Linked DNA regions of Homo sapiens. The protein of the gene in region 2 purifies or fractionates together with the protein of the main gene of each other region. This does not show direct contact. Each region holds a gene or a part of one and is shown on either strand. Other genes may lie near its edges.

Region 1 (3,369 bases), on a different chromosome or scaffold from region 2:
TTTCTAAATACCATTCTTCGATAAACAGAACCAGTCTTCTTGAAGAATAGTTGATTCTAAGATTGGGAAAGAGAAAATACAAGATGAGCCTGGAGTACTTTATTATGCTGAAGGTATAAAAGTGCTTAAAAAAAAAAAACTGCAGGAGTCAACCTGAAGGAGTTCCCAATAGTCAGAATGAAAGCAATTTGAGCAAAATTAAAAATTATTAAGTACTGGATTATAACCTGTAAAATATGGTAAATGCCCACAAGTCCATGCTAATGTAAATAAACAACTGAATACATAAATAAATGCAGGAGAGAAGGTAGCTCTTCCTTACAGAAGAATTGTAATTAATAAGTATAGAAGGAATAAAGGAAATACAAAATTACCATCAGGCAAACACTACAGTAATAATTTTTGCAGGCAAGATCCACTGAAAGATACTAAATCAGTAAGGAAACTTGACAGACACCACCTTAATCAAGTGATCAAGGTTAACATTATCAGTAATAAGACATCTCAACACTATGTAACTCCCTGATATGACGCACTGAGAAGGTTATACCATCACTTCTGTGGTATTCTTGCCAGAAATGCATAACTTCAATCTAATCATAACTAAACCAGGGATTAACTCAAATTGAGAGACATTCTACAAAACAACTGACCTGTACTCATATCAAAAGTGTGAGGTCCTGAAAGACAAGGAAACAAAGAAACTCAGGCTGGGCATGGTGGCTCATGCCTATAATCCCAGCACTTTGGGAGGCAGAGGCAGGAAGATCACTTGAGTCCAAGAGTTTGAGACCAGCCTGGGCAACATGGCAAAACCCCATCTCTACAAAAAATTAGCCAGGTGTGGTGGCACTTGCCTGTAGTCCCAGCTACTTGAGAGGCTGAGGCGGGAGGATCACTTGAACCCGGGAGGTCGAGGCTGCAGTGACGGGGATTGTGCCACTGCACTCCAGCCTGGGTGACAGAGCAAGAACCTGTCTCAAAAAAAAAAAAAAAGAAAAAAGAAAAAAAGAATGAGAAACTCATACAGATTAGAAGAGACTAAGGAGACACAACAAATAAATGCAATGTAGAATCATTGAAGGGAAAAAAATATTAGTTGAAAAGCTGAGATCCCGCCACTGCACTCCAGCCTGGGCCACAGAGCGAGACTCCGTCTCAAAAAAAAAAAAAAAAAAAAAAAAAAAAAAGAAAAGCTGATAAAATTTGAATAAGCCCTGTAGTTTAGTTAATAATAGTGAAGCCATGTTAATTTCCTGGGTTTGGTCATTGTGCTCTGGTTATGCAAGTTGTTAACATTAGAGGAGACTGAGTGAAAGGTATGCATGAACTCTCTGTACTAATTTTGTAAATTTTCTGTAAGTCTAAAATTATTCATAATATGCAAAAATTAAACAAAAAATAAAATAAAATAAGCACATGGAATGAGACTGTCCCCTGGGTCTCTGTAGAAACCAGGTCAAACATCCCAAATGCTCTTTTACCCCCATTCTGAGTTGGGCCAGAATGGTCAGAATAATGGTTCCCAATGTACCTTGATAAACACGGAAACTCTCAGGACCGAGTCCTAAGGTTCTCTGATTCAATAGGTTTGGAGTGGACTTGAGAACTGATCTTTTTAATAAGGGCCTCAGTCTGTGGAACTATTGGCCTCATGTGCCCTGTGGATAATCTTGGCTGTTGGTTCATTTTTCTTAACTGAAAACAGTGGCAGAAACTATGGGGATTTTTAAATCTCTAGGCTAGAACATTAACTTTTTAAAAATTCAGAATAGTATTTTATTTGCCTCAAGCCTGTGAATGGGGATCCCACAAATCACCCCCCACTGAAGACAATGCCCATAACAAGGTAACCTACCCATGAGCTTCTGAGGGATTTAGGAATTGTCTACCATCTCCTCTCTAAGAAGGGCTCCCACAATATATCCCCTTCTGCTTGCTTCTAACTCCCTATCACCTGCTAAAGAAGGACCTCACCTTTTAATCACTTTCATTGCCAAGGGGCACAAGGAGCCCCAAACTCTGTCACCTAGGAAGAGCTTGACCTCATGGTTTCCACACTGTGTGCTTTTATGTCCCTGCTCCAGGAGATGATGGACATTGTCAAAGCCATCTATGACATGATGGGGAAATACACATATCCTGTGCTCAAAGAGGACACTCCAAGGCAGCATGTGGACGTCTTCTTCCAGGTAAGTGCACACACCCTGCACATGAGCTGTAAGCCCAGCCTAGATCAAGTCAACCCACGAGCATCTGAGCAAATGATTTGTGTCCAACCCTGTACTAAGCATGGTTGGTAACAGAAAAGAATTATAAGATACATTGTCCTCAAGAAACAGATGATCTCCTTAAGCTGCAAGTGTACATGACAGAAGAGAACAAGAAAGTATATTATTAAACGCTAGTGGTATAGTATGAACTCTAAATCCATAAAAATTTGGGGATCAGGGTAAACACGAAAGACTTCATTAATTACAACTGTGGAGGTGTTAAGCATTTGTGTCTGGGAAGTAAGGGGAAATAAGATTGGAAACTAGGATAGGGCCAGATTATGAGACCTTTAAATGGAAGAGTTTGGCCTTGCTCTGGTACAGGATGGGCAGCTAGTGCTGATCCTTGACTAAGGGAGTGGTATAATCATTGGGGCATTTTAGGAAAAAATTAATCTAGCGGTGGAGTATCAGAGAATATCAAGAGTTCACTCTAGTTCAACCTCCCACTTTGCAGATGGGAAAAGAGAGTCCTCTCTGGCCTTGTGCAAGTTTGTACAGCAAGTAACAGGCCAGAATCAGAACCTCTTTTGCCCAGTGTTCTGCCAGATGGACAGGGTAGCAGGGAGTCTACAGAAGAAGCAGAATAAGCCAGCAGTGAGGTGATGAGTGTCCAGAGCAAGTCTTTTGATTTAAGGAAGCTCATGGGGCTCAAAGTGTTGTAATCAGGACCTAATTGGAGTTGTCTGGCCAGTGAAAGACAACTCTCATTCTCAGGGCAAAGTTGGTTAATGAAATGAATGAAATGAGCTCCAGCTCGTTACTCTGAGCTCCAGCAAGAAAGCAGGGGAGTAAGCTTTGGAATGGAGATCACCAGATTCTGTAAAGTGCTTTCTGTTATGTCTTTCAGAAAATGGACAAAAATAAAGATGGCATCGTAACTTTAGATGAATTTCTTGAATCATGTCAGGAGGTAAGGAGAGATCTCAGGGCACAATAACTCTACATCTGGGAAAGGAAACCTGGGGCCTGGGGACCTGCAGAAGGAAGGTGATGAGAAACCTGCACATACCTGCAACCCCTCCCATCAGAGCCAACAACACCAGCAACAACTGTGAAGTCCACAGTTCCACTCCTCAACCTGACCTGCAGTTGG
Region 2 (4,320 bases):
CCAGGTCCATGACCCTAGACGACCCCAGGTGTGCCCTCGATGACGTCTGCAGGGATGGAGCACCGCCCCTGCCATTGGGTATTGCACTGTGTGATGCCATCCTCGGGGCCCTCAGGGTGATGGAACCCAATAGGCTTCCTTAGGCTTTCCTTTCAGATGGACAGGAAATAGATGATGTTCCATTGTCATTTTGTTTTCTTTCTTTCCATGGATTCTGTGACCATCTTCCTCTCCTCATTGACTCTGCCAGAAGGGGATTCCTGGTGGGGCAAGGGTAGCTGGTGGGAAATGAGCTACCAGGAAATTAGCAAAGGGTCTTCTGGCCATCTGGGGACAGTTCTCATGTGGTCCCCAGCCCAGTCTCGAGGCTTCTGGGCCGGTCACCCTGCAGCCTCGGTGCTGCGCCTCTGGATCCAGCCTCCGCAGGAAGAACCCTGGGAGACCCAGCAAAACGGGGTGCCTGGTCTGACAAACGTCCCCCCGTTCCTCTGGCTCTGCGGCTCAGGAATAGGCCGAGACATCATGTCCAGGCAGTGCCAGGCCACCTCACTGCCCCCTTTAAGGTTGAGCGCAGAGGGCTTTTGGGGGCGAGCATGAAGCTGGGCACCCAGAGCCTGAGGCCGACTGTCCCTCCCTGTGTCCTGGAGTGGGGGCCTTGACCCGAGAAGACCCCCAGGGGATGGCCTGTGGGTGCTGATGTGGGGAGGGGAGGTCTGTGGACTGAGGGGGGTCATTGGCAGGGGACATTGATCACCGCGGCTCAGGGTTCTGCTCAGTGGGGTCAGTGGGAACGTGGTCAGTGAAGGCCTGGTCAGTGGGGGCCTGGTCAGTGGGGGTCTGGCTGGCAGAAGCCTGGCCAGGTGGCAGCTAGGTGACTTCAGGCAGGGTTTGTCCTTGGAGCCTCCTTGCCGCCATCTGTAGTGGGAACGAGTCATGGCACTCCGGAGGGCTGCTGGGAAGAGGAGGTGAGCAGGTGTGTGGAATCCAGCCCTGCCAAACAGATCTAGCACTTTACAGCCTAGATGAGTCCCCTGCTAGGGAGGGGACCTGCCCTTTGCCTTTTGCCCCCAACCCTCAACCTTCTGCCCCCTATCTTCCATCTGCAATCCCAGGAATGCCCTGGATGGGGAGGTCTGAGTTTAGGGAGCACCTGTGGATGCTCTGATGATGGCCATGGGTCCCGAGGGGGGAGAGAGTGACAAGGGTGACCCAGTGTCCTGGGTGCACATATGAGTGGGGCAGCTGGGCCTAGCCAGAGCAGTGACAAACGCATGCACACATGTGTTCACCCACATACACGTGCATGCTCACATGCACAAACACTGCACACACGCACGTTGACACTTCAAGGGGTGGAGGGTGCTGACTCTGGTCCCGGCTGACCCAGGCAGGGGCCCATTGTGATGGGTGTCATGACCTCACAATGTCACTGGTGCTGAGCACTCGCCCACCTGTCCGCTTGCCGTCTCTATGTCTGGAGCTCTTAGAGATAAGACATAGAGGTGTCTGGTTCTGAGAAAAGGAAGTTTTGCTAAGTGAGAGACACAACTGACTCAACTGACTCAGGTGAGTGTGACCTGCTCTGTTCCTTCCCTGCTGACCTGGGTACAGTCATTACCTGGTGGGCAGGGCTAGCCTCTGGGCAGGTGCCGAGGAGGGTCATCCCTGAGCACTCACCAGGTGCCTGTTCTGCACTGACCTGGTGGACTCTGTGGGGTGGGTGCTGTCCCCGAATGTACCCATTCCACAAGTGAGATGTCTAGGGTCAGAGAGGAGGTGACTGGCCAAGAGACCCAGATGTGATCCTGGGCTGTGCTCTCAGCCCTGCCCTGTGCATGCCCTGGTCTCTATGGCCCTAGATTCCAAATCTGCCCAGGGTTTTCTGGCCCCTGATGGGGCAGAGTCTGGCCCTGAAAGAGCTACTGGGATGGAACTCCTATGGGTGTGGTGGAGGGAGGTGGTGCTCGGTCCAAGTCTGTGCCCTAAGCTGGGTGTCCGCAGGAGGAGGTCTCACCAACTCAGACTTCACGTGCGGTCACTGAGGGTCTCCGTGGGACCCACTGGACACATGGGGTCCCTTGTCTGGGAGTAGGGAGCCCTCTGCCTGTGGGCAGTTGTGGTAGAGGACCTTGAACACTGCTGCTCTGGGGCCTGGGCAGGGAGGACTTGGACAGTGGGGACCTGGTCAGGAAGGCCTGGTCACTGGGGGACTGGTCAGCGAGGACATGGTCAGTGGGGAATTGGTCATCAGGGGCCTGGTCAGCAGAGGCTTGGCCACTGGGGCTTAGTCAGTGAAAAACTGGTCAGTGGGGACATGGTCAGTTGGAGCCTGGTCATCAGGGGCCTGATCAGTGAGGACCTAGTCAGAAGGCCTGGTCACTGGGAAAACGGTCAGTGAAAGCCTGGCCGGCAGGGGTCTGGTTAGTGGGGGCCTGGCCAGATGGTTGCTTGGTGACCTCAGGCACGGGGTTTGTCCTTAGAGCCTCCTTGCCTCCGTCCATAGCAGAAATGAGTCATGGCACCCTGGAAGGCTACTGGGAGGAGGAGGTGAAAAAATGTGTGGAATCCGACCTTGCCACTCACACCCAGCATTTTACAGTCTAGCTGAGTTCCCCCTAATGAGGGGCCCTGTCCTGTGCCCTCTAACCCCTAGCCCCCATCTGCATCTTCAGGACTGCCCCGTGTGGGGAGTTCTGAGGTTGGGGAGGACCCATGGATGCTCTGATGCTTGCCACAGGCCTCAAGGGAAGGTGACGCTGATTAAGACTTGATGAGCACTTGGGTGCACATGTAAGTGGGACAGCCAGCCCTGGCCAGAGACGCTACTCGTGCACACACATGTTCACCCACATAAACATACATGCTCACCTGCACAAACACATTTTGACACCTTAGGGGCTGGAGGACACCGACTCTGGGCCCTCTTGACCTGGGCAATGGCCCATTATGATGGGTGCCATGACCTCAAAATGTCACTGGTGCTGAGTGACCGCCCACCTGCCCACCCACTCACCTCTGTGTTGTGCAGCACTTGCACATAAGACGCACACAGGTGTCTGGTTCTGTGGTGCATGAACGACTTTTCTAAGCGAGAGACACAGCAGCCTGAGCAGACTCAGGTGAGTGACCTCTGGGCAGATGCCGACGAGGGTCACCCCTGAGCACTCACCGGGTACATGTTCTGCACTGACGGCGTGGACCATCCTCTCCTTTGTCCTCACAGAGACTCTGTGGCGATGGGTGCTGTCCCCAAATGTAGCCATTCCACAGGTGAGATGTGTAGAGTCAGAGAGGCGGTGACTGGCCCAGAGACCCAGATGTGACCCGGGCCGTGCACTCAGCCCTACCCTTTGCCATGCTGGACTTGAGCTTTGACCGCTGAGGCCTCTCTACCCTAGATTCCAAATCTTCCTTGAGTTCTGGAATTCAATGAGGCAGGGTCTGGTCCTGGAAGAGCCACTGGGACAGAGCCCCTGTGGGTGGGGTGGAGGGTGAAATTCTTGGTCCAAGTCTGTGCCCTAAGCTTGGTCCCCACAGGAGGAGGTCACTGATGGTTGCTGTGGGACCCACTGGACACATGGGGTCCTTCATCTAGGAGTGGGGTGGGGAGCCCTCTGCCCTCAGGCAGTTGTGGAAAATGAAGGAGCCCTGGAGGGCTGCCTGGAGGGTGACAATCGTCTCTCCTGGTCAAAGAGGCTTGGGGACTGGAACCCTCCTGCAGCGTCCCATTCTCTCTGTCTGGTCCTCTAGAGGCCTTGCCTTCCGTTTGCCCCGAGTATTCCTGGGGGGGACGGTTCCCCCAGGTGTTCTCTAGGACTAAGGCCCCAGCGTTCTCTTGTTCTTTCTTGGTGACCCAGGAAAACAAAGTCCCCTCCTGTATTGACAGCTGGGAATTGTGGTGTCCACCGTCCTCGACCTGCGACGGGGTCTCCATGAGCACAGAGGCTGCTCTGGAGTCAACAGATCATCTTTTCCCCAAACCAAACTGCTTGGCTGGCGTTGTTCCTGAAGGGGCTTCACTGGCCAGAGTGAGTGAGAATTGGGGTAGAACGGAGCAGTCACCAGATGTCTTGCTTCCTACGGAAAACTGATTATCTTCCTGGTCCCTGAACCATCCTATAGAGACATCCAGTCCCTGACTCCACCTGCCTCCAGGTGCCCAGAACAGCCCATCGTGGGGACTTCACCCTCAGCAAGTGGACGCCGTTTGTCCTGCCAGGGCAGGTGTGTGTCTGCCTTGGGGTGTTCGGGGACAATAGGCCTCTCTGTTCAGGTCCCCGTGTGCTCAAATCCTCAAGAAGGAGCCCACCACTGGTTGGA

The links.
Region 1: the proteins of TBC1D28 (region 2) and KCNIP1 purify together in Homo sapiens (affinity purification with mass spectrometry; one large-scale study listed by BioGRID and IntAct). This does not show direct contact.

Annotation. Positions count from the first base shown.
Region 1 is NC_000005.10:170,730,713-170,734,081, forward strand, and holds part of KCNIP1 (A-type potassium channel modulatory protein KCNIP1), read left to right. Parts: intron 1-2,087; coding exon 2,088-2,192; intron 2,193-3,123; coding exon 3,124-3,186; intron 3,187-3,369. UniProt on the Homo sapiens protein: Regulatory subunit of Kv4/D (Shal)-type voltage-gated rapidly inactivating A-type potassium channels. Regulates channel density, inactivation kinetics and rate of recovery from inactivation in a calcium-dependent and isoform-specific manner.
Region 2 is NC_000017.11:18,641,536-18,645,855, reverse strand, and holds the start of TBC1D28 (TBC1 domain family member 28), read left to right. Parts: upstream 1-1,464; 5' UTR 1,465-1,566; intron 1,567-1,572; exon of another isoform or gene 1,573-3,119; intron 3,120-3,223; exon of another isoform or gene 3,224-3,270; intron 3,271-3,857; 5' UTR 3,858-3,932; coding exon of another isoform or gene 3,933-4,028; exon of another isoform or gene 4,029-4,077; intron 4,078-4,122; coding exon of another isoform or gene 4,123-4,224; intron 4,225-4,320.